Homo sapiens: one gene and its partners. The protein of the gene in region 6 interacts with the protein of the main gene of each other region in a biochemical or structural test. Each region holds a gene or a part of one and is shown on either strand. Other genes may lie near its edges.

Region 1 (3,500 bases), on a different chromosome or scaffold from region 6:
CTGTTGTCCACTGACCTCTCCGTCTATCCATCTATCTATTGTCCACTGACCTCTCCATCTATCCATCTATTGTCCACTGACCTCTCCATCTATCCATCCATCTATTGTCCACTGACCTCTCCATCTATCCATCCACTGTCCACTGACCTCTCCATCTATCCATCCATCTATTGTCTACTGACCTCTCCATCTATCCATCCATCTATTGTCCACTGACGTCTCCATCTATCCATCTGTCTGTTGTCCACTGACCTGTCCACCCATCTGTCTGTTGTCCACTGACCTCTCCATCTTTCCGTCTGTTGTCCACTGACCTCTCCGTCTATCCATCTATCTGTTGTCCACTGACCTCTCCATCTATCCATCTATTGTCCACTGACCTCTCCATCTATCCATCCATCTATTGTCCACTGACCTCTCCATCTGTCCATCCACTGTCCACTGACCTCTCCATCTATCCACCTATTGTCCACTGACCTCTCCGTCTATCCATCCATCTATTGTCCACTAACCTCTCCATCTATCCATCCATCTATTGTCCACTGACCTCTCCATCTATCCATCCATTGTGCACTGACCTCTCCATCTATCCGTCTTCTATCCAGGCCTCCATTCATCCCCCATCTAGTCATCCTCCATCCATCCACCAGACATCCACTCCTGCCCCTACCCACCCATTCACTAGACACCAAAATCCGGTGACGAATTATTTGCAGATGGACCCCTGGGGACGTATGTCACGAATGTACATCCCCAGGTCCCATGGTCAGAGTCGGCAGGTGTGAGTGGGGCCCAGGAAACTGCATTTTCAGAAGACTCTAAATTAGAATCAGACATGGCTGCTGTGTGGATTCACCCTTCACCGTCACCCTGCAGAGGAGCAAGGTCCACAGGGTCGCTGTGTTCCCAGTGCGTTCCTGACCACACCGTAACGCCCCTTCCTTCCTCCCTCTCTCACCAGTTGCTTACATTTCCTCATCCCGGAAGCATGACAGCATTAAAGACGACTCGGAGGTGAGTGTGTGGAGCAGCTCGCTGCCATTTCCGACGTCCTCTGGAAAGTCTGTGAGCCTGTCTCTGGGGTAGTCACGGAAATCTAGATGTGAAATAGACATGGTCCGGGGTGTTGCTAACTAATCTTCACGGGTGTGGATGTCTAGAAGGAAGTCCTTATTCTTGGGTCTTACTTCAGGCATGTCCTTGATGAATACCTGCAGGCAGCTGTCCCCGCAGGTGGTCTGGGGACCACACCCTGCGGGGGAAGCCGTGCCCCACATCCTCTCCATTCAGGTGGTACAGTGGCCCAGGGGCTGGCTTTTGAGCTGCAATTTTTATCAAGTTGTGTCTGCACCATGCCTTCCGAATTGTGTTGCCTCATTTGGCCATCCTGGCAAACCCTCTGAAGCCCTTTCATGTCCTTCCCCAACTTGAGCCAAGAGGCTCAACTGAGCCTCACGTCTGTGGCCAGCTCTGCACCATAAACCCTGAGAAGGGAACAGAAGAGCTTGCTGCGTTCTCAGCCTCTGCTCGTAAAACCCAGGGAAGGACTGCACTAGCGAAGCCCACTCCTTTCCAGAGCACCAACAAGTGTCACCCTCACAACTCGTGCTCCTTCCTGGCCATCCTGTGTCTGGAGGGAGGCCGGGGCACTTAGAAAGCAGAATCTGAGGCTGAGCACGGCGACTCACACCTCCAATCCCAGCATTTTGGGAGGCTGCGCACATCGCTTGAGTCCAGGAGCTCGAGAACAGCCTGGGCAGCATAGCGAGACCCTGTTCCTACAAAAATAAATACAAAATAATTAGCTGGGCATGGTGGCACGGGCCTGTGGTCCTAGCTGCTTGGGAGGCTGAGGTGGGAGGATCGCCTGAGCCTGGGAGGTGGAGGCTGCAGTGAGCTGAGATCGCACCACTGCACTCCAGCCTGGGCGACAGAGGAAGAGTCTGTCTCAAAAAAAGCAGAATCCGGCTGGGCGCGGTGGCTCACGCCTGTAATCCCAGCACTTTGGGAAGCTGAGGCGGGCAGATCACGAGGTCAGGAGATGGAGACCATCCTGGCTAACACGGTGAAACCCCGTCTCTACTAAAAATACAAAAAAAAAAAAAGCTGGGCGTGGTGGCGGGCGCCTGTAGTCCCAGCTACTGGGGAGGCTGAGGCAGGAGAATGGCGTGAACCCGGGAGGTGGAGCTTGTAGTGAGTCGAGATCGTGCCACTGCACTCCAGCCTGGGCGACAGAGCCAGACTCCGTCTCAAAAAAAAAAAAAAAAAAAAAGCAGAATCCATTTTGCCGCACAGAACAGCACCTCCCAAGGAACCGCCTCCTCCACCCCGACCTCCTTGCCAGGTGTAGCTTGCGGGAGGCAGAGGCTTCTGTTCTTCCTCGGAGCGCCTTTCTCCTGGGTATTTCTAATAATTATTTCTAATAATGTGTGCCTGCCGGTTTGGGAGCTCTTGGCAGGCATTAGCTGCATTCGCTTTACCTTCCTTCCCCTGAGGGAGGGCACTGATCAGGAAGGATGGGCCCAGGCCCTGGGCCACATGTCCCTGTGGCCACCTCTTCAGCCCCACTGATAGGGCTGAGGGCCTGGGGGTCCCTCCCACCTGCAGCTGTGACCAGAGCCATGGTCTGTGGAACGAACAGCTTCTAGCTTTCTAGCACCTTCCTCAGAAGCACACAGCCTTAAATTCTTACCTTTCATGCCCCAGTTTAGATGGGAGTTTGGGGGTGGGATATGTGGGACGCAGAACTGAGACTCGAATCATGAGGCCCTGGGCTCTGAGGAGCAGGTCTCTGTTGGGACCGCATGAGTGATGCGTGGTCCTCTGAGTCTCCCGGGAACCCCCCTCTCACTTTCTGGGGTCTTGTTCTCCCTCCCTAGGACCTTAAGCCAGTTATCGATGGGATGGATGGAATCAAAATCTCTCAGGGGCTTGGGCTGCAGGACTTTGACCTAATCAGAGTCATCGGGCGCGGGAGCTACGCCAAGGTTCTCCTGGTGCGGTTGAAGAAGAATGACCAAATTTACGCCATGAAAGTGGTGAAGAAAGAGCTGGTGCATGATGACGAGGTAGGTGCCGCTTCTCATGGGGCCCGGGGGCCCGGGAACGCGCTGCCCTGGGGCCTCCTCCGGGCTTTAGCGGAATTAATCCATGCACGAGAGACCTAGCCTCACGTTGACGGAGTTTGTGCAAAATCAATAGTCATGCATCGTGTAATGACCAGGATGTGTTCTGGAAAGTGCCTGGTTAGGTAATGGCACTGTTGTGTGAACATCACAGTGTGCACTCCACAAACCCAAACAGCACAGCCAACTCCACAGCCAAGATGCACAGTGCAGCTCCTGCTCCCAGGCTGCAAGCCCGTACGGCTGTTAGTGCACTGCACACTGCAGGCAGTGAGGGGACCACCACGAGAGCACTCACGTGTCTAAGCTTAGAAAAGGTGAAGATGGGTATCGTGGTCTCTGCAACCTTCTCATGTATGGCCAACCACTGATACG
Region 2 (3,500 bases), on a different chromosome or scaffold from region 6:
AGCACCAAACAAGGCAAAACGAGCAGAAAGAGGTACAAAAGACCTAGATGGAAACTTTAGCCCGGACTAGCAAGTGCCATAGGGGAGGATATCTCCACCTATGCTCAGAACTTAACAGCTCAAACTAAACATCTTCCATAACAAAGCCACTTGTTTCAGATGTTATGTGACACTGTGTGTGACACACAGAGAAACCTAGTATTTATCTGCTTTTGTTAAAGGTCCCTCTGCCTCTCTGTGTAAGTTGCTCAGATCTGTATTCTCATCTTTATCTCTTGTTCCTACCTTCAACTGCAAAAAAATTCAACGAAAAGTTTTGTTGAAGTGTAGAGATGGATGGGCTCTTTCCTATTCTTCCAGAAGCTAAGAGTTTCCATTCCTGTCCTAAAGTTCCATTAGGAATAGGGATGGCACCTGCCTCTTAAAAATATACACTACAAGGCAGTGTAACAGCACTGACCATTTAGGAGCAACCAGAATGTTGCAATGCATTTACAGACAAGGTTCAGCAACCAGAGTAACTTGTACACAGCTGAAGCCAGAAGTTTCCCCAGAGGACTAAAGTGTGTAGCTTAGGAATGGCATGTGAAGGCCACCAGTGCTCTCGGAACCCCCTCCACCTTTCTTAAGCTAGCAGCAGGAGCTCAAGGAGGGCTCAACACTTACCAAGCCACTGTGATCCTAGGGTCCAGATAATTGAGTTTGGAGGTTCCCAGGGCAATCTGTTTATTTTCCTCTCGGTCTGTGGCTTGAACTTCCAGCTTCATCAACTGTTCCTCCAGTCTCTGAACAGCCTTCTTCTTTGACTCTACTACCCTAGAAGAATAGCAAAGTCCTCAAGAACCAGGCCTGGGCTCTAGACAAGAGCACACTGTACCCATCCTGCCACTTTGAGTCAATAAAAGCCCTAGTATAGAGATTTCCAAAAGACATTTCTCAGAAACCATCGAAAAGCCAGGGCCCCAGGGGCCCTGACAGATGCTGCACACTTTTCTCTACCAGCCCCAACTTTCACAATACCAGGTACATACTTCTTCGTCTTTGCATCCTTCATGACCTTGGCATCAGCCTTAGCACTTTTCAGGTCTCTCCGGGCATCTGCTAGCTGTTCCTTCTTGGCATCAATCTAGGGGAAATAATAGTGGTAAGGTTATGAGCTGTAGAGGAAAAATGGCTCCACCTGAGAAGGTGAAACCAAGATGTTATCTGGACCAGGCTGTCTCTGTCAGTGGTTTGTCAGATAAAAAAAAACAAGGGTGGCTTCATGAAGGCAGGGAGAAGATGCACAAGGACTAGTGAATTCAACTATTTGTTCTTCAGTGATCTGGAAAGAAACAAGGGTTTTACAGGGCAGTAACCTAGGGGCTCAGGGAAAGGAACCCGCTGGGGCTGGGAATCTGGGTGCTGATCTTTCCATCAGAGAACACTCTGCTGTCATACATCTGGGAGGATGGCTACAAATGACAGCTGTTTATCAAATAGATCCTGTGCCAGTTCTTAGCTTTCATTCTAAGAACACTGTAGGAGCTCCTCTTTAGGAAACTGAAGCAGGATACTTGCATCTACTGGGCAACCCCAGCTCGTTCCTCAGATCCCACCAGTACTCTGGGAAGGCGGTGCCAGCTTCTCAAGGAAAATGGATGCACTGAAGAGAGTACTCAAGGGGCTACAAACTGGCAATTAAAAGACACCCAGGAAGCCAAACAGCTCAGCCAGTCTGTCCCAAACCAGGACATGGCAGGGCTTAGCTTTGGCATTCTGTTTTTAAAAGGAGAGCGGTCACCAGGCGCGGTGTCTCACGCCTGTAATCCCAGCACTTTGGGGAGGCTGAGGAGGGCGGATCACAAGGTCAGGAGATCAAGACCATCCTGGCTAACACGGTGAAACCCCGTCTCTACTAAAAATACAAAAAATTAGCCAGGCGTGGTGGTGGGTGCCTGTAGTCCCAGCTACTCGGGAGGCTGAGGCAGTAGAATGGCATGAACCCGGGAGGCAGAGCTTGCAGTGAGCCGAGATCATGCCCCTGCACTCCAGCCTGGGCAACAGAGCGAGACTCCGTCTCAAAAAAAAAGGAGAGAAGTCTGAGGTGGGAAGGACCTTAGTTGTCACTCAATGGATGTGAAAACACTTTTAGCTGTGGAGCTTTTTTCCCCATGTGAACTCTCATGGAATCCATATCTATAAGGGAAGAGACAAGGGCAGTTTCAGCCTTTCTTGCTTGTTAGAATCTTTGAAGCACCCCTGGTGAATCTAAGTTCTTCTCAGATTCCTGCTTAGAGACAGCAGTGGATAACAACATGGAGCTAGAGCCCCTGTCACTGAGCTCACGCTACTCAGAGGGCAGGAGAACCCCATACCTATGGTCATCTATGTGAGGTGAAGACAACCTCTACGGAGTAAATAACATGTCTGACACACACTGGGCTGCTCACTGAACCTGGAATTGTTTGTTGTTAGATACACACAGCCCAAGATTGGAAACAGAGGCCACCATTGTGAGAGGATCACTAAATATGTTTTACTATGAATGGCTTACTTCCAACATCTATGTTGTCCAAAGCCAAACTGAGGGGACTGATTCTATATACAAAAGCATCACAGACACCACTAGCCAGATTCTTTTTAGGATAGAAATGTAGCAAACCATGATCTTTTAACCATTTCTGTGAATGCTAAATTGGCAGGCTATGTCAAATTCTCTCAAAGCATCAAAGACTCCATTGATTCACTTGGCAAACAGGGGCGTGTGTTTGCTTTGTGGGCACACAGGAGAGGAATCCTGGGTTTGGAGGGCTCATCTGGCAGGCAGCCTGGGCTGCCCAAACCCGGTTCCAGAGCGAGAGCAACAAAAGACCTCCTCATGCTCCTGGGAGGGGTTTTCCTGAATTAGGTAAACAGCACCTGAATATTCATGCTTTTATTTCTGGCTTGTAATGATAACATGAGGAGAATAAACAATTCCAGATGACCAGCATTTAACAGAGTGGCAGCAAATGTGAGCTGCTAGGATGGGCCGTCTATAGAGTTCTTTGCCTGCCAATCATATGATCCAAGGAATCAAAGGTCTATGGATGTATACTCATTCACTGTGGACATGTACGTCTCTTCAAGAAAGCCAGATGGCATCTGTAGCATAAATTATAAGTTGTGTGTACCTTTTGAACCAGCTATATTACTCATGGGTACTTATCTTAAGGAAATCTCAACAAATGGAAAATATTCTGGGCCTTAAAATGCAGTCTCATTCCACAGTAGTAGTTCTTAAACTCCAGTTGTACAAGTATAGAATTCCATGAACTTGGATGAGAAAAAATCTATAATTTCAATAACCTCTTTTTGGAACTTATTTATATTTATTTTTAAATTTTTAATACAGACAGGGTCTCACTATGTTGCCCAGGTTGGTCTTGAATTACTCAGCTCAAGTGATTCTCCCACCTCAACCTCCCAAAATGCTGAGATTACAGGTGTGAGCCACTGCACCCAGCTTCTAGCTGAAA
Region 3 (4,296 bases), on a different chromosome or scaffold from region 6:
TTAGCTCCCTATTAGGTATTAACAATCAAGGAAATCAGAACACTCTCAATAGAGGTTACAATAGAAATTACAAATGGCCTTTTTTTAAGTTGTTGTTGTTCATGGATTCCAAAATTCAAAGTACACATTACCAGAAGAGCGTTTTTCTGTCAGTGCCTAAATTTAAATGCAAATTACTATTTAATGATATGCAATTTTCCCTCTGAACCTATATATAATACTAATGAGTCAAATGTTTAAGAAGAATAACTGACCATGTTATTTTAGCTTTTAGACAATAAAAAGCTTATTGTCTAATCACCAAGAGATACATCAAAAAACTGGTTGCTATTAGCTCTACACATGAATGGCAGCTTGACAGAGACAAGCTGCTCCAGAAAGATTAGGAACTTCTAGTGACCACAAATGGGGTAAAGCAGAAGGCACATACAGTATCTGTAGCTACCATTTCTACATCAAAAATTCAGTGCCCACAGATATGTAAACTATTAAGCCATCTAAATGAATGTGTGCCTGAAAGAGAAAGGAGAAGCAGAAAAAGTTTACACCCAAATCAACAGAAGAAATCACCCTGCGATTGAGCATCCCAGGACCTGAAAACTTAATGTTTTGAGGTTTATGAACACGTTCAAGTTCCAGTGCAACTATGTTAAAATAAAATTGGGCTGGTGCCAGGCACGGTGGCTCACGCCTGTAATCCCAGCACTTTGGGAGGCCAAGGTGGGCGGATCACCTGAGGTCGGGAGTTCAAGACCAGTCTGACCAACATGGAGAAACCCCGTCTCTACTAAAAATATAAAATCAGCCAGGCGTGTTGGCGCACGCCTGTAATCCCAGCTACTCAGGAGGCTGAGGCAGGAGAATCGCTTAAACCTGGGAGGTGGAGGTTGCAGTGAGCCGAGATTGCGCCATTGCACTCCAGCCTGGGTAACAAGAGCGAAACTAACTCCGTCTCAAAAAAAAAAAAAAAAAATTGGGGCTTGGCACAGTGGCTCACGTCTGTAATCCCAGAACTTTGGGAGGCCGAGGTGGGCAGATCACCTGAGGTCAGGAGTTTGAGACCAGCCTTGCCAACATGGTGAAACCCATCTCTATTAAAAATACAAAAATTAGCAAGGTATGGTGGCACACACATGCCTGCAGTCCCAGCTACTCGGGAGGCTGAGGCAGGAGAATTGCTTGAACCTGGGAGGGGGAGGTTGCTGTGAGCCGAGATTGCGCCACTGCACTCCAACCTGGGCAGCAGAGGGAGGCTCTGTCTCAAAAATAAAATAAAATAAAATAAAATAAAATTGGCATAAAATTCCAACCCTGCCACACATCCTCAAGTTGGAAGACACACAATGGTAACAACAGAAAACACTCTGAGTAGTCTGGTTTACACTCTTCTAGGGACCTCGCATGTTAACTATGAATAAACATAAGTCCTGATAACATCCCAATAAAAGAGTGCTACTATGATTATCTCCATTTTACAGATAAAGAAACTGAGATGCAGATAGATTAACTCACCCAATGTCATGGCGAGTTATAAGGCAGAGCAAGGATTTTAACCCCATCAGTCAGACTCCAAAGTTCGTGTTAAACAATAAACGTGTTTTCATCATAAGGGTTATACAATGGTCACCTTCTTTTTTAAACCTGATAACATATTTTACTTCCAACTCTAGGATAGCATCATGCAATAAGAAAAGTATGACAGAGGTACCCATTCCGTTCCCAGCTTGATCAGTAGCTGGAGAATGGAAGACAAAGTGCAAAAAAAAAAAAAAAAAAAAAAAAAAAAAGAAAAAAAAAGAAAGAAAGAAAGAAAGAAAAAGAAAAAAAGAAATACAAGTACAGACTTTGGAATCACGAGACTCAAACAGACCCCTGAACAAAGTCTGGGGCTCAATTTCCCCATATGTAAAATAAAAGAATTTATGTTATTGAGAAGGTCAAAGAAGGTAATATGAATAAAGTGACAAGTACAGTATACAGGATGGGGGTTTTCATTTAAAGTTTACAGACACCCAGAGGGTCCACGGATGGGCTTCAGAGTCCACCAATCTCATTAAGTGTATTACAAACTGTATGTGTGCCCATTTTTTAAAGAATTGTTCCTGGCTTTCCACAAACTTTCAAGAAATAAGTTATCTCCAAAAAGTTAAGAACCACTGGAATACATAGCAGGTACTCAAAGAAAAAAGCTACCTTTCGCTCCTTGTTCTCACAAATTCTCCCTTTTTACTTAAAGATGACACACCAAGGCTTCACAATAAATGTGCATTGTATCTCACCATTTTCTTGGCTTGGGTAAGTAGTAACATATGCAAGCTTATGCCCCAATTCTCTAGCGATAGTCTAGGCCCTCAAACACTGCTTCATTTCTCTCTTCACCGAGAGGAGTACACGGTATATACTCGAGAACAATCATCCACCTAGCTGCACAAAGCACCATATCGGCTAGGAAAACCAAATAGGAACCACAGCCTCAGGGCTGGACCATAGACACCGGATACCCCAACGCTACAGGGTGAGGAGAATGTGTTCCCCCAAACTACTGGGCAAACCAGGAGTCTGAACCCCCCTACCCTTTTCCTCCCTCTCTCTCTGGAACTCTGGTAAAGGCAGGTCTTCTGGGCTCTGCCTAAGGCTGGAGAGAAACGTTACCCGAGCCGGGGGTTGCAGCGCGACGAAGTTCCACCTCCGCTGTCCTGGGAAGGGGCGGCAGCACTCAGCAGAAGACGGGCTCCCCACTCTCCCACCAACAGACCCCAGAGTTGGTCTCCACCCGGCCTGGGAACCGGCTCGGGGGATTGCCCTTTCCCCAAGGAGTTTCCGCTTCCGGGCTATCCTTTGCCGGAAGCAGTATGTGAATGACGTAGAAGTATTGCGCCGTTGGTGATTACGGAAGAACCAGGAGTTTGGCGTGACCATGGTGAGAGAAGACGGTCCAAGAAGGGACGTTATCAGGCCACTTTTTGGGTGGAGAAGGAGGTAGTCAGACCGTGGCCAAATTTCCTTCACATTATCCTAGCATATTTTCATTCTGGTCTTAGCTCTTAAACTTCTCCAAGCGGTGACTGTTATGCTTTACAGAGTGGGGAAGAGGGTCTGGGTTATTTGAGGCAAGAAGGGAAGGCAATAGACAAGAGAAAAGAAGAGACTTTAAAAGATGCCGTGTGTTTCCAACTTTTTTAATTCTAAAATTTCTGTTTCAAGGGGAAGCAAAAGAAAACAAGGAAGTATGCGACCATGAAGCGAATGCTTAGTCTCAGAGATCAGAGGCTGTGAGTGTCTGGAATCAACTGCCCAGGGATATTCTAATAAGAGTCTAGAGAGGATAAGTAGTAAAAATGTTTGTTGTTATTATTTTGTTTTTTGCTTATTATCGTGTCTTAGATTTATATAGCATGAGATAGCCAGTGTTTAACAGTAATTTAGCTGCTGAGCGATCACACTGGGAAAGGCGATGGGAATTAAACATTTCTTAAGTGTTCACTTTTTCTACCGTTATATGCTTTGTCTGCCATATCGCATTTAAACCTCATGTCAGTTCGGTGAAGTCCGTATAGTTCTCTTTATGTTTTTACCATTACACTACTACATTCCCCTGGGGTGGGGCGAGGGGAGTGTTTCTTGTTGAAAGATGGCAAGGTTAGAGACCTTGTTTGTCTGGCGTTTCCAGTGCCTGGTACTCAAATATTTTTGTCAGAGAAAATGGGAAAACTCCAAGATATCTCCATTTTATAAGTCTTACTAATATAAGAATCCAAATCACTGTGGAAGAAGAAAGTGAAGTGAAATTCCCTAGTATGAAGAGGATCAAAGCGGTGTCCCTGCTTAAGTGTAGAATAAGCATAGCTATTAAATAAAGACTGATCTTCACTGAGTTTAAGAGTCTCAGAAAGCCGGGCGCAGTGGCTCACGCCTGTAATCCCAGCACTTTGGGAGGCTGAGGCGGGTGGATCACCTGAGGTGAGGAGTTCAAAACCAGCCTGGCCAACACGGTGAAACCCTGTCTCCACTAAAAATACAAAAAAGAGTCTCAGAATAAGAGAATAGTCGTTAAAACCTTCAGAATTATTATTCTCAGCCTTTAGTGTGGATGTATTGTGTAATTTTTAGGAATGACACTCCATTAATAATAATTTCTTTCTAGTTAAGGGTTAAGTTCTGTATATGCGTTTTTACATTTTAGCCCTTTATAAGAAGCATATGGGGTAATACTTTTCCCCCAAAAGTTAAAGCATCTGAATCTTCAGAAGATAACTGTCACCCTTTTACCCATTGCTTGGAAGTGGATTGTGATCC
Region 4 (4,170 bases), on a different chromosome or scaffold from region 6:
AGGCTCTACTACTTGCAGAGCATAACCAGAAAGAAAAACCAAGCAAAGATATGAAGGAGGGGCCACAAAACCATAGCACATTCAGGGGATAACTCTAAAATCCACTCCAAAGGGCAAACTGCTTAATAAAGCAGTTCCTGATTTCCCATCCAGTGGTTCACGTCCCCCCTCTCTAAGTAGCTTTGAAAGGGCAGGGGGAAGGAAACGTTTCTGAACACGTTCATGCCCACACGCCCCGTGGTCGGAGCCCAGGCAGGGTCCGCGGCTCTGCTAAACCCGGAAGCTGCACACGCCGTGCCGTTAACCCACTGCCAGGTGCAAAGTGGAAGGGGGCAAGAAGTCAAGGGTGGCCTGCCGGAGGTGGGCGCGCAGGGCAAGGAGAAACGAAGGGCGAACCCGAGGCCTCGCCGCCTTCCGCGGTGTAGCCCGTCAGCATCTGATCCTGGACGGCGCGCACAGGTGAACACACCTTGCTGTGCCGAGACCATGCCGAGAGAGACAAGGGGCGAGGAAAACGCAGGGAACTGGGGGTGGGGCCGGTAACTGCGCTTCAGAGGCTACACAGGAGAGTGGAAGAAGAGCTGGGGTTGCCCGGACTAGGCAGAGGTCATCTTCCTCGCCCCCGGAGCGAACAGACCCGTGTGGCGGGAGGAAGAGCAACGGGAAGAGGTCCGCGCTGCGGCGAAGCCTGGCGGGAGCGCCTCCGCGCCGCAGAAGTGCATTCGGGCCCCGCTACGGCCCAAGGGCACCCCTCTCTCCCCGCTTTTCTGCGGCCGCTTCGGAGGTAGGGCGGGGGAACCACTCACCTCCGGCCTCCGCTTCGCCAGCACCCAGGCCGTCTCCAGCTCCAAACACGTCAATGGCTCACGCAGCAGGACCTTAAGTAGCGCGCATCCCAACTTGCTGCCCCCGCTCCCCGGCGGCAGCCCGCCCAATCGGCGCGCGCCGCCGCCAGACTGACAGCCGCGCGGGGCCCTGGGCCGCAGGGGCGGTCGGGCCTCGCCCCGCCCCCGCCTGGCGAAAGGAGGGCCGAGGCGGGAGGAGTGGGCGGGGCGGTGAGCGCGACCCCGCCCCCTCTTCCCCCGCCCCACCGCGCCCCCCAGCCGCGGCCCGTCTCTTAACACTTCGGCTTGACGGGCGGCGTCGCGGCCCAATGGGCGGGCCAACTCCCGCCAGCGGCGGCTCCGAGTGGCCAGCTCTCGGGCGGAGCGCGCGCGGGGGGCGGGCGCAGCGGCGGGCGGGGTTTGGGGGCGGGCCGACGGGAGGCGGGGGCGGTGGCCGAACAGGCAGGGGGAGGCAGCGGTGGGCGCGACGTCGGCGGCGGCGGCGGCGGCGGCGGCGGCAGCTGCAAGTTGGGCTGCAGGGGCAGCGCATACACTACAATGGCTGCTGGAAAGAGGCGTAAGGAAACAATTTCCAGGCCCGCCGCGTCCAGCCCGAAATATGAGAAAAAAATTATTAGAAATTCCGCGGGCGGTGTAGAGGCGGCGGACGGGCCGGAGGGAGGATGTTAAAGCCCCGCGGTGAGTTCTCCGGGGGTCCGGGGCGGCGGCGAGGCGTTTAGCGGGAGAAATATCAGGGTTATTTAAATTATGGGACTAGCCGAGGGGGCAGAGGAGCAGCGGCGGCGGCAGGAGGAGGAAAAGTTTGTGCTACTCTCAGCCCCTGCTCAGGACCCCAGAGAGAAAAATAATAATAAAAAATAAAATAAAATAATTACGCGGGGCTGCGAGGACTCCCGAAGTCGCTTCTGACAGGGCAGGGGGCGATGCGGCTGGGGACCCGAAGGTGAGGTCGGTGGGAAAAAAAAAAAAACCTTTATTCAGGGTCTGGAAAGTTTGAAAAGTTTTCCTCCTCCTCCTCCTCCTCCTCCTCTCTGGTGCTGTGAATATTGTGACAGCGGCAGCGGCAGCAGCGAGAGCGGAAGACATTAGAGACCCGAAAAATAAGGGAAAAATTAATATAAATTCAGTTTTGAGAGTAAACTCTCCGCATTTTCCACCAAAACATCCCGGGGGAAGGTCGCTTCCCAAAGGGCCTGGCGGAAACCCGCAGTCGGCAATATTTGGGGGGCACTTTGAGTGACTTGGGGTAACTTTGCCCCTTTTTCAAAAGAGGTTTTTCTTTTCTGGAGAAATGAATTTGTTTTTGCCCTTTCCTCAGGTGGGCAAGCCGGGGTCGGGGTGCGGGGTCTGCAGGGAGGTGTGAGCCCGGGGTGTGTGGCTGCGAGGGGGGGTAGGGGGAGGGGGTGCTAAATGAAAGCAGGAGATCGGCACAGAGCAGGGACAGCTTGTTGTCAGTATCATAAACAACCAAAATGGAGGGAGAACTCAGGCATATAACCAAATAAAAATTTTTAAAAAATCGCAAAAAATCCCTAAAAATCCGGGATGCTCCCCCTTTTCTCGCTAAAGGTAAAAGTATGTACCGCCTTTCCCCTGAAGTCCATTTTGACTTTGCAGGGACCAAGGAGTTAATATTTATTTATTTTTTAAAACTTTCGAAGGGCAAAAGCCTTTTATAACTCAACCGACAATGAGAAAACGTGAAAATCCGATGCAAGAGAAGCAGGGGGAGCGAGGGGGGAGGTGGTAGTGCAGAAACTGCTAAACTTATTGGTAATGTGGACTGATCTCAGATAAGATAAACACTATATTTGCTATTTTATAACTCTCTTTTAATGATCTTTGCGGGGTTTTTTTGGGTGGAAAAAAAAGTGATGCCATTTTCTTAATAGAGTTAATATGTGTGATTGGAAGAATGAACCTTTCCGGCTTTAGATTGCATTTTCGTCGCATTTATGCTTCAGGTTTTGTTAGTGGCTCCCTCCTTTCTTTAAACTGGGCTCTGCAGAGGAGGGATAGAGAGGTGATGGTGCTCAGAGAGGCTGGAGTGCAAGGCTGGAGTACCTTTTGGGGAGGGATGTGGAGTTGCTTGGTTTCCCCCTTCCTGACATGTTTGCTTCACCTGTTCATCCTTCCTAAAGAATGTTAAGCTGAGGTTTTCTGGTTTTATGTGTATAAAAGGATGATGTCTCTTGCATCACATTGATGTTAATGGGAAAGTGCTGCTGATGTTGGTTCCACGTGGGATATGGGACAGAGCAGGGCATTTTAAAGGGACAGCTTCTCTTTTCTTATGGTTTTCATCACCTACACAGAATCACTGTCTGAGGACCAAAAGCAGAGGTGCTGGGAGGGTGTGGTGATGGAAGAGCCTTCCCTTTCTGTTACTCCAGTGCACCCACCCATAGGAGTGATGGAGGGACAGGAGGGATAAACAGCCTCAACCGAAGATGGATATGTGTATAGTTTGTATCCAAACTGTTCCTTTGTGTAACAAGCCCTCCCAGGAACTTTTCATGTTACATTGCTTTGCTTTGGAAGCTGATTTTGGAAGGAATTGTGGAAAAATGGAAATAGTTTAAGGTGTGTGGTGTAATGGTATAGCATTATTGAACAGTTATGAATTCTGTGCAGTGAGATCAAAGAGCTGTGTATGCCCATAATGTGATTTTACAGCCATTTTGTAAAAACTGTAAAATACCTTAATATTCAATTTGGCTTAAGGTACATTGAGGACTTCTGGTTGAAAATTACAGAGTGGTGAAGATTCTTTAAAATTGTAAGCAGTAGGCATTTCTTTAGGGGGAAGGAAAGCACACACACCAACACCATGGAAAAGTTTACACATCCATTTTTAAAGTCCATCCTATGCATGGGTTGTAACTTTGCGCCTTTGAAATGAAAAGATTTTTAAAATCCTGAGCCCTGTGAGTTTTCATTTTCTAAGTTGAATTTATTTGTGTTATTTAACAGAAAGTGTTTACTGACCATAAACTACTATCGGCTCTTATGTTTTAGATTTCCACGATATTTTCAAAATTTAAAATGTGTAAATTGTTAGCTGTACTATAATGGGGATTAAGGTTAATCTTCAGTAGAAATTACTTGTGTTCCATTTTCCACAGGTATATGGAGTTTCTGAAATAAATCCTTATTTCCTCTTGTTTTTATTATTTATAGACATGGATTAAAATTAGAGCTGAATTTTTAGACTTCTTATATAGAATGTTTTTTCTTGCCCTACTGTATAAACAAGTTATTATTTTTGTAGTCTATTGTATGTTAACTTGTGTTTACAACTGAGTTCTTCCAACTTTCTGTAAAT
Region 5 (2,889 bases), on a different chromosome or scaffold from region 6:
CTGGGAGCAGCTGGGCCAGGGACGCAGGTGTCAATGGCCAAGGAGGTGGAAGGGTGGTGGGCCCTGTGAGAACACAGCTCTAGTCTCTGTGCTGGGCCTGATGACCTGCTTCAGTGCCATGGGCCAAGTCCTGAGGCTTGTGTATGTCATATAAGCTTATGATGTCACTTGACCATGAAGGCTCCAGCAGCTCCAGCAGCTCCCACAGCTCCCATCTGCAGGGCAGGAAGACCACCTGTACTGTGGTTTGGGAAGGCCCTTGCAGAAGCACCCAGCCAGGCCCATGCCCTGGGGCCACTTCCTCATCCCTGGCTACAGAAAACACGGGGCCTGTCCCTGCTGGCAGCTGCCTGGGGGACCCTCCATAATGCCAGATGTTAGCTGGTGGGACAGTTTCTGCCCCTGCTGGAGAAGCACTTAGGAGACTGCTTCCTAAGACTCCAGCTCAGCAAGGTCTAGGTTCTCATGAAGCAAAGCAAGCCTCACACAGCAACAACTGATGGTTTCCATTTTTTTCCTTTAATTTGGATGTACAATGTTTGCAGCAGTTAAAAAATTAAATATACATCTCTCGTCAGTCCTTCCCTTTGCTCTCAGAAGCATTCAGGTCTGGGTGGGGCTCCGGGACTCGCCCATCACAGCCCTGCTGGCTCCAGGGGAGCTCAAGCTCAGCTGACAGTCCCTCTGACCACGGTGCAAAGCAGTGAGACCTGGACAAGGAGGCCCCACTTGGGTCAGAGCCCACCCTCCGTAGGCAGGTCCACGTTGGCCACGATCCTCCAAGGCTGGCAGTTACCACCCAGATTGCAGCGGGAGACTCTGCTCTTAGAAACAACTGAGGGGAAGGCGTTCCTTTGACTGCACCAGAGCGTGACAGGCACATGGGGGAAGAGCGGCCCCTGAACCTTCCAGGTTGCCTTCAGTTGTCATGCGGCATTCTGAGCAGCTCCCTCCTTCCCAGGAGGCCCAGGCCCGGCAAGCGAGTGTCCTCGTCTGAGCCATCCTGAGCTCTCCAAGGTCCCTCAGCAGCTCTCAAGATCTTCCTTCTTCTCACTCCTACACGTGACCCCTCTGGAGGACAGCTCCAAGTCTACCCTGGCCAGCAGCTGTGGTCCCGGGTCCTCCCCGCAGAGGGAGGAAGCGGGGGAGGGACAAAGCCCGATGAGGATGTCTGCTGGGAAGGATGCTCACAGGTAGCAAGAGAAGCCTGACTCCACCCACCAGACACACAGAACTAACCTCACTCCACCCCGCAACGGGAGGAAGTTCCACCTGCCAGGCGGCCACACACCGAGTTATTGCTGTCTACTATCCGTCCCGAGCTCCACGTGGGGCTCATCTCAGCTCCAAGAGGAGGAGCTGTTCATTGGCTCCGAGGGCTCTGAAATGACCCCCTCCATGAAGATGGGGGCGAGGGGTGTCCTTTAGGGCACAGGGCCTTCTCAGATGCTACATTCTGGGTGTCTGGAGGGGGTTCAGCTTCACATTTTCCCCTTGAAAGGACACATGCGCTGGCAGAAATGAGGGTGGACAGTAACAAAGAGCACTTGGCAGCTGGAAACATCACCTACATAGACTCAGCTGGGCCCGCAGCGGAAGGGAGGCACATTTTGGGAAAGAAACACGCTTCAGTGCATTGCCAAACAATTCTACCCTGGTTTCATTAAAATCTTTCCCGATATTACCAGCAGGAAAACAAAAGCAATCTCCCCACAGCCCACCCCCAAAACTTGACAACCAAATTAATCACATTTGCAACAAAATTTGGATAATACGATGGGTGCTTGCCACAGATTTTTAGGAACATGATAAAGTCTTCCTCCCTTCTGCAGAGAGCTGATATGGAGACCATCTTCGCCAGTGGGATCCTAGTGGGCAATGAATGAGCCCTGCCCTGACCACGTCCCACGCCTGGATGTCCGTCACGCGGCTAACTTGACCTGGCGGGTCTAAGGAAAGTCAACTTCCAGGAAGAACCGACACGGGCACTCTTAGAGGCCATGCATCTCCGTCTTGAGAGGTGTGTGTGTAAAATTATAGATGTGTCTATATGCACATGCATGGATACTTTATGTATATGCGTGGGTGAAGTCATTTTTACTAATGAGCTCATATTCATCTCCGGAGCACACAGGCAGGTCTTTGGGGGTGGGGGACACCTACTGCCAGAGCGGGGTGTTCTGAGCCCCTTGCTAAGGACTGGTTTAGATCACGTCGTAAACAAGAGGAAGACAAACTCTATGTTGAGCCCAGCGATATGCATTCCAAGGGAATGGCTCTGTTTTACATTCACAGTGTTATTTCTTACAAATGTAAACATCTAGCCAGGAACAACATCTGGCCTGTGATACTGCTGTCTCAGAGCTGCTGACATAACCTGCGGGGGAGGCGGGAGGCGGGTGGGGAGCAGCCAACAGTTCTGAGAACTTTCCCCTCGTTCCCAAACCTTCTAGCGGGCTTTCCAGGAAAAAGCTAGGATGAGAAACAGGAGCCCCCAACCAATACGGAATGGTGATTTTCTTACGTGTTATAATTCAGTAGCTTCCCTTAAGGGCCTCCTCAAACATCGGACCCCTTTCTACCGCTCCTGCTGCCCCGCCACGAGGACGAGGTGGTCCTGGCTGGGGGAGGCCTCTGTTGGGAGCTGGTGGGAAAAGCCTCATACAGGCCTGGCAGAGGCTGCTCAGAGGAGGGGCTCCCTTTCAGCTCCCCCTCACGTATGTGGGCAGCATACAAGTCCACATCTCAGCTGCTCCCCAGCTGCCACATAGGAGAGGGACAGGTGGAAGCTTGGGGGTCTCAAGGCAGCACCTGCACAGAGTTCCAACATTTCCTCCACTTACCACATTCAATACCCAAAACATCGACGGGCATGACCAAACCAAGCCA
Region 6 (3,500 bases):
GCGGCGGCGGCGGCGGCAGCTGTGGACATCTGTGGACATCTGTGCTGTTCCGTAGGGAAGTTAACCTGAATTGGAATTACCGAGGTAGCTGGCTAGAAAACTGAGACCCCCCCACGCCACACGGTGCCGCACCCTGGGCCCCCGCCTTCCCCGGGGGTTCCTGACCACACGCCGGGTCTTCAAAATACCAAATTATTGCACTTTCAAAAAATACAACACATCTGTGGCTAAACCCTCCCCAGCCGCCCACTGTACCCCCATCCTGCCCACCCATCCCCCCACCCTACTGCCCCTCCCCGCCCCAACCCACTCCATGGCTTCTCGGCTAAAACGCTCGCTGCTCGGCGCGTGAGGGTCTCTGGGCGAGGATGCATTTGCAGAGAAAAAGCAAAGGAAGAGACAAACGTCAAAGTGGTCGCCAGAGAGGGGCTGCGCCCCACCGCCCGCCGCCCGGGTCCCCGCGCACTGGCTGGAATGGTCGTGGGCAGAGGGCGGCGGGCGGCGGGGCATCCGGAGGGGAGGGCGCGGGGCGGCGTCCTGGTCCCTCCCGCCCACTACCCCTTCCCGGCTCGGACTCCAGCCGGGGAGGCGGCTGTGTGGGTGGCCGGCCTTGTTTTTAAGAGTTTGACTTTTTTGTTTCATTTTTCTTTTTTGTATCTTTTTTTGTCATTTTACTTTTTTTTTTAATCCCCCGATAGGAGAGTCCAGAGGTACAGGTGCCAGGAGCCAGGCAAAAGGGTGGAAAAACAAAACGAACGACAATAAAAAGAAAAAGAAAGGTCACTCCTCCCTCTGCGCCCGAGGCTGGCCCGTGCCCCTCTGCGTGGTGAGCACCAGGAAAGTCGAGTGTGCGGCCGGGGTCAGCAGGCCGGCACCAGGCCCTTCTGGAAGGGGCAGCGGCGCTTGGGCCGGGGCCCCTCTTCGTCCTCGTCTTCCTCCTCCTCTTCCTCCTCCTCCTCATCCTCCGAGGACGATGAGCTGTCCAGCGTGAGGTCCACCACATCGGCGCCCGGCTTCCCATTCTCCATGCTGCCCACCGGGCCGCCGCCACCCGTGCTGCCCAGGGCACCGCTCCCGTTGACGCTGGGGGCGGGCAGGAGCCCATTGGCGTCCGAGGGGCCTACGGGCAACAGGGACAGGGTGCAGGTACTTAGGATGCAACCACTGATAAATGGGGAAACTGAGGCGGCCCTGGCTGCGGACTGCGCGGCTGGTGGGGTGAGGCACTCACCCAGCACGAGGATGGCGCCCTGCGGGCTGCAGCTGCGCTCCTTTTCGGCGCGGATCGGGCACCACGAGCCGTCCACCAGGTACTCGATCTCGTCGGCGTCCTCACACTCGCTCAGGATCTTCGAGAGGAGCCTGGGGCGAGGCGGACAGCTGACGCCGGGGCTGGAGGTGCCCCACCCCCCCAACTCCCCAGCCCTCCATCCCTCCCGGATGCAGCCAGGCACTCCCCACTTCTCTCTGCAAGAGCAGCCTCACCACCCCGACCGCAGGGGTCCAGGGACCCCGCATTCCCTCCCCCGCCCTCAGGCCCCTGCAGGTGCTGAGCCCCAGGCAGGTCTGCAGTGCACGGCACTGCCGGGGGGACGGGGCATGGACACACATACCCAGTGGCCCCCAACTACCCACAAGAGCAGGGAGTGTGGCAGCTGCAGGGGTCCTCCCCACCCTGCCCCTCTGGGCACCTCCGGGTGTGCACGCATGTTTGAGCGTGTGTGGACGTGAGTGTATCTGTGCATGTGTGCGAGCATGTGCGTGTGTGTGCACGTGTGCATGTGTGGAGTCTATGAATGTGTGTGTGTGAGCATGTGTACACACGTGTGAATGGATGCATATGGGCATACGTGAATGTGGACTGTATGGATGTGTGGCATGCGGGTGTGGGCGTGTGTGTGTGACGGTGTGGACTGTACAGATATGTGACGGTGTGGACTGTATAGATGTGTGTGTGTGTGTGACGGTGTAGACCATATAGATGTGTGTGTGCATGTGATGGTGTGGACTGTAGAGATGTGTGTGTGTATGATGGTGTGGACTATATGGATGTGTGACGGTGTGGACTGTATAGATGTGTGTGTATGACAGTGTGGACTGTATAGATGTGAGACGGTGTGGACTGTATAGATGTGTGTGTGTATGACGGTGTGGACTGTATGGATGTGTGACGGTGTGGACTGTATAGATGTGTGCATGTAACAGGTGTGGACTGTATAGATGTGTGTGTGTTTGTATGACGGTGTGGACTGTATGGATGTGTGACGGTGTGGACCGTATAGATGTGTGTGTGTTTGTATGACAGTGTGGACTGTACGGATGTGTGACAGTGTGGACTGTATAGACGTGTGTGTGTATGACGGTGTGGACTGTATAGATGTGTGACGGTGTGGACTGTATAGATGTGTGCATGTAACAGGTGTGGACTGTATAGATGTGTGTGTGTGTGACGGTGTAGACCATATAGATGTGTGTGCATGTGATGGTGTGGACTGTATAGATGTGTGTGTGTATGACAGTGTGGACTGTATGGATGTGTGACGGTGTGGACTGTATAGATGTGTGTGTGTTTGTATGACGGTGTGGACTGTACGGATGTGTGACGGTGTGGACTGTATAGATGTGTGTGTGTTTGTATGACGGTGTGGACTGTACGGATGTGTGACAGTGTGGACTGTATAGATGTGTGTGTGTATGACGGTGTGGACTGTATGGATGTGTGAAGGTGTGGACTGTACAGATGTGTGTGTGTGTGTATGACGGTGTGGACTGTATGTGTGTGTTATGGTGTGGACTGTATGGATGTGTGCAGGTGTGTGTGTGAGACGGTGTGGACTGTATGGATGTGTGCGGGTGTGTGTGTGAGACGGTGTGGACTGTATGGATGTGTGCGGGTGTGTGTGTGATGGTGTGGACTGTATGGATGTGTGCGGGTGTGTGTGATGGTATGGACTGTATGGATGTGTGTGGGTGTGTGTGTGTGATGGTGTGGACTGTATGGATGTGTGGGCATGCGGGTGTGGGTGTGCACGCACACCTGCTTTCACATTGCACTGTGTGCCCGCCAGATCAGGAAACAGGCTGGAGTGAAGGTGCTGGCTGCTCAAAGCCCCTGCAGAGGCTGTGAGGGTAGCAATGGGAGCAGAGTGCGGGCTCCCCACGCCCATGCCAGCCACAGCCTCTCCAGAGCACCCCCACTGTGTCCGGCCTTTTTACTCGGAGGTCCTACCAGCCCCATTTTACAAATGCAGAAACAGAGGCTCGGGAAGGGAACGAGTTCCCTGAGGCCACAAGGCCAACTGGAGGCAGGCCCTGGTTCTGCTCCCCAACCCGTCTTAGCCAAAGGGCCTCAGTCTCCCCACCCGCAGGAAGGGAAAGGTGCAGTGGCTGGGGGGCGTCTGAGGAGAGGCCCCCTGCCCCACGGGTCCATGCAGGGCCCAGGCTGGCCTGTTACTGTCAAGGCTACAGCTGCTCCCAGGCACCCGCAGTGGCATCGTTCT
Region 7 (3,500 bases), on a different chromosome or scaffold from region 6:
TTCAAAATATTCTTCTTTTCAGTACAACTCAGGGGCTTTTCCAATTTTCAAAGATTATCAACAAAACTACAATCTGGATGTGCTGCTTCATGCCACATTTATCACTTTCTAGTTTTTACTGGGTGATAAAGTTGAAATTCAAAAGTACATGGGATCCAATTTAAATTTCTACTATCACAACATTGTAAAATATGTTTCAGAAACTGTAAGTCTTCTATTTTTGAGACAGAGTTTTGCTCTATCGCCCAGGCTGGAGTGCAGTAGTATGATCATAACTCACTGCGGCCTGAAACTCCTGGACTCAAGCACCCCTCCCACTAAACTTCCCAAGAAGCTGGGACTACAGACACATGCTACCATGCCCAGCTCTTTTTCTTTCCTGTAGAGACCAGGTCTTGCTATATTGCCCAGACTGGTCTTAAACTCCTGGCCTCAAGCAACCCTCCTGCCAGTGTCAGTTTCCTAAAGTGATAGGACTACAGGTGTGAGCCACCAAGTCAGGACAAGACTGGAAGTCATTTTTTTTTTTTTTTGAGAGAGGGCCTCACTTTGTCACCCAGGCTGGTGTGCAGTGGTACCATCTTGGGTGACGGCAGCCTCCACTTCCTGGGCTCAAGCAATCCTTCCACCTCACCCTAAGAAGTAGCTGGTACTACAGGCACGTACCACTGCTCCCTGGCTAATTTTTGTATTTTTTTGTAAAGAGAGGGTTTTGCCATGTTGCCCAGGCTGGTCTTGAAATCCTGGACTCAAGTGCTCCGCCCACCTTGGCGTCACAGTGCTGGCATTACAAGCACTTTGTAATCTTGAAAATGGCTCTCATGAGCCACCCTGCTAGGACAAAACTGGAAGTATTTAATGGAACTTTGAAAGGGTAAAAAGAAACAAAGAGCTTCTGCCACAGAAGACAATCCAGCTGATCCTACAGAAAGTGACAGAACAAAATGAAGTGGTACATAAAGAGTTAAAGGATCAGAGAGCATCACGTTTTGTAGTAAGGATCTGGAAAATCTCCTATTATCAGGGGCTCTCCCTGTCAAACAAAGCTATGGGACGTGGCAATTAGGGCTATTAGTTCCTTTTTGTTCATGAAGACACGTAAAAGAGAATTTCAATTCAGCATGTAGAACTAAAATGGTGAGGATTTGGCTGGGTGCGGTGGCTCACACCTGTCAATCCCAACACTTTGGGAGGCCAAGGCGGGCGGATTACTTGTGGTCAGCAGTTCAAGACCAGCCTGGCCAACATGGTGAAACCCCATCCCTACCAAAAATACAAAAATTAGCCAGGCATGGTGGTGCATGCCTGTAATCCCAGCTACTCTGGGAGGCTGAGGCAGGAGAATTGCTTAAGCATGGCAGGCGAGGGCTGCCATGACCCAAGATCGTGACACTGTACTCAAGCCTGGGCGATGGAGTGAGATTCCGTCACAAAAAACAAACACAAACCACTGGTGGGGTTGGGCACATTGATTCGTGCCTATAATCCCATCACTTTGGGAGGCCAAGGCTGCAGTGAGCTATAATGAGGCCACTACACTTCAACCCGGGCAACAGAGAGGCCCTGTCCCTAAAAAAATAATTAAAATGAAAATTAAAAATAAATGAATAAAAACCATTGGCATTTCCTGAGCCTATTCCTATTTTCCTTTCTGTTCCCCTCTGGTCATACTTCCCAAAGCTCTGAACTCTACAAGAACTTATACTCCAGTGTCTAAACGTTCAAATTCATAAACACAGCTGTTCAAAGAATTACAAATGGTAATTTTTCTAATTAGGAGAGATTTTTTTACCTGTGCAGGTGTGTCTGTTTCATTGATTGGTTGCCCGTCAAATCGGAATCTGATCTGCCTCATTGACAATCCCTGAACGAGAATTTAAAAGCAATAAACAGCATTAAGAGAAACAGAATTCTATTTACATAAAAGTACATGCATATTTAACCATGAATATATTAAAGAAATACCTAAATAAACAATTGCCAACATGTTAACATACCCTATAGGTAAAAAGATTTGGGGTGATTTTCATTTTCTTTTTTTTGAGACAGTTTTGATCTGTTGTCAAGGCTGAAGTGCAGTGGCGTGATCTCAGCTCAAGGCAACCTACACCTCCTGGTTCAAGCGATTCTTCTGCCTTAGCCTCCCAAGAGTAGCTGGGACTACGGTCCCCCGCCACAACAACCGGCTAATTTTTGTAGTTTTAGTAGAGACTGGGTTTCATCAGGTTGGCCAGGCTGGTCTCGAACTCCTAACCTCAGGTGCTCCGTCCGCCTCAGCCTCCCAAAGTGCTGGGATTACAGGAGTGAGCCATGGTGCCCAGCCTCTCATTTTCAGTGAACAGTAAGATGTAGTATTTTTTTTCCTTTTCTTTTTTTTTTGAGACAGAGTCTTGCTCTGTCACTCAGGCTGGAGGGCAGTGTCGCGATCTCGGCTCACTGCAACCTCCACCTTTTGGGTTCAAGCAATTTTCCTGCCTCAGCCTCCTGATTAGCTGGGACTAGGCAGGCGCCACCATGCCTGGCTAATTTTTGTATTTTTTAGTAGAAACAGGGTTTCGCCATGTTGGCCAGGCTGGTCTCGAACTCCTGACCTCAGATGATCTGACCACCTCAGCCTCCCAAAGTGCTGGGATTACAGGCATAAGACACTGTGCCCGGCCTGTTTGTTGTTGTTGTTTTTGTTTGTTTGTTAAGACAGAGTTTTGCTATGTCGCCCAGGCTGGAGTGCAGTGGTGCGATCTTGGCTCACTGCAACCTCCGCCTCCTGGGTTCGAGTGGTTCTCCTGCCTCAGCCTCCCGAGTAGCTGGGATTACAGGCGCTTGCCATCATGCCCAGCTAATTTTTGTGTTTTTAGTAGAGACAGGGTTTCACCATGTTGGCCAGACTGATCTCGAACTCCTGACCTCAAGTGATCCACTCACCTCAGCCTCACAAAACGCTGGGATTACAGGTGTGAGCCACTGCGCCCAGCCAGTAAGTCATTCTTTTAGAAAGCTTTACTGCTTTTCAGACACAGCTACTATAATGTTAAATAGAACATACCTTGAGACAAATATGCATTTAAATGAGTTAGACAAGGAAATGAAATTTTTTTTTTTTAAATGGAGTCTCGCTCTGTCGCCCAGGCTGGAGTGAGTGGAACAATCTCAGTTCAACGCAACCTCCACCACCGGAGTTCAAGTGACTTTCCTGCCTCAGCCTCCTCAGTAGCTGGGACTACAGGCTCATGCCACCATGCTGGGCTAATTTTTTGTATTTTAGTAGAGATGGGGTTTCACCGTGTTAGCCAGGATGGTCTCAATTTCCTGACCTCGTGATCCGCCTGGCTGGCCACTAACAGGAAATTTAAAGGAAAAAAATGCCCATTTAAAGACTCCAGTCTGAGCTCGGGGGCTCACACTGTAATTCCAACACTTTAGGAGACCAAGGCAGATCATCTGAGGTCTGGAGTTCAAGATCAGCCTGGCCAATATGGTGAAACCCCGCCTCTACTGAAAAT

The links.
Region 1: of the proteins of PIAS4 (region 6) and PRKCZ, one has a biochemical effect on the other in vitro, tested with the Homo sapiens proteins (one study listed by BioGRID).
Region 2: of the proteins of PIAS4 (region 6) and TOP1, one has a biochemical effect on the other in vitro, tested with the Homo sapiens proteins (one study listed by BioGRID).
Region 3: of the proteins of PIAS4 (region 6) and AREL1, one has a biochemical effect on the other in vitro, tested with the Homo sapiens proteins (one study listed by BioGRID).
Region 4: the proteins of PIAS4 (region 6) and PLAG1 form a complex in vitro, tested with the Homo sapiens proteins (one study listed by BioGRID).
Region 5: the proteins of PIAS4 (region 6) and HTT form a complex in vitro, tested with the Homo sapiens proteins (one study listed by BioGRID).
Region 7: the proteins of PIAS4 (region 6) and SUMO2 form a complex in vitro, tested with the Homo sapiens proteins (4 studies listed by BioGRID).

What each region holds. Positions count from the first base shown.
Region 1 is NC_000001.11:2,147,911-2,151,410, forward strand, and holds part of PRKCZ (protein kinase C zeta type), read left to right. Parts: intron 1-961; coding exon 962-1,014; intron 1,015-2,879; coding exon 2,880-3,068; intron 3,069-3,500. UniProt on the Homo sapiens protein: Calcium- and diacylglycerol-independent serine/threonine-protein kinase that functions in phosphatidylinositol 3-kinase (PI3K) pathway and mitogen-activated protein (MAP) kinase cascade, and is involved in NF-kappa-B activation, mitogenic signaling, cell proliferation, cell polarity, inflammatory response and maintenance of long-term potentiation (LTP).
Region 2 is NC_000020.11:41,119,322-41,122,821, reverse strand, and holds part of TOP1 (DNA topoisomerase 1), read right to left. Parts: intron 1,127-3,500; coding exon 1,032-1,126; intron 817-1,031; coding exon 667-816; intron 1-666. UniProt on the Homo sapiens protein: Releases the supercoiling and torsional tension of DNA introduced during the DNA replication and transcription by transiently cleaving and rejoining one strand of the DNA duplex.
Region 3 is NC_000014.9:74,710,281-74,714,576, forward strand, and holds the start of AREL1 (apoptosis-resistant E3 ubiquitin protein ligase 1), read right to left. Parts: upstream 2,801-4,296; 5' UTR 2,653-2,800; intron 1-2,652. Other genes in the region: rRNA-processing protein FCF1 homolog, read left to right, coding at 2,918-2,920, 3,205-3,272. UniProt on the Homo sapiens protein: E3 ubiquitin-protein ligase that catalyzes 'Lys-11'- or 'Lys-33'-linked polyubiquitin chains, with some preference for 'Lys-33' linkages.
Region 4 is NC_000008.11:56,208,474-56,212,643, reverse strand, and holds the start of PLAG1 (zinc finger protein PLAG1), read left to right. Parts: upstream 1-1,370; 5' UTR 1,371-1,523; intron 1,524-4,170. UniProt on the Homo sapiens protein: Transcription factor whose activation results in up-regulation of target genes, such as IGFII, leading to uncontrolled cell proliferation: when overexpressed in cultured cells, higher proliferation rate and transformation are observed.
Region 5 is NC_000004.12:3,241,569-3,244,457, reverse strand, and holds the end of HTT (huntingtin), read right to left. Parts: 3' UTR 501-2,889; downstream 1-500.
Region 6 is NC_000019.10:4,035,236-4,038,735, reverse strand, and holds part of PIAS4 (E3 SUMO-protein ligase PIAS4), read right to left. Parts: intron 1,363-3,500; coding exon 1,232-1,362; intron 1,121-1,231; coding exon 861-1,120; 3' UTR 1-860.
Region 7 is NC_000017.11:75,172,960-75,176,459, forward strand, and holds part of SUMO2 (small ubiquitin-related modifier 2 isoform a precursor), read right to left. Parts: intron 1,865-3,500; coding exon 1,793-1,864; intron 1-1,792. UniProt on the Homo sapiens protein: Ubiquitin-like protein that can be covalently attached to proteins as a monomer or as a lysine-linked polymer.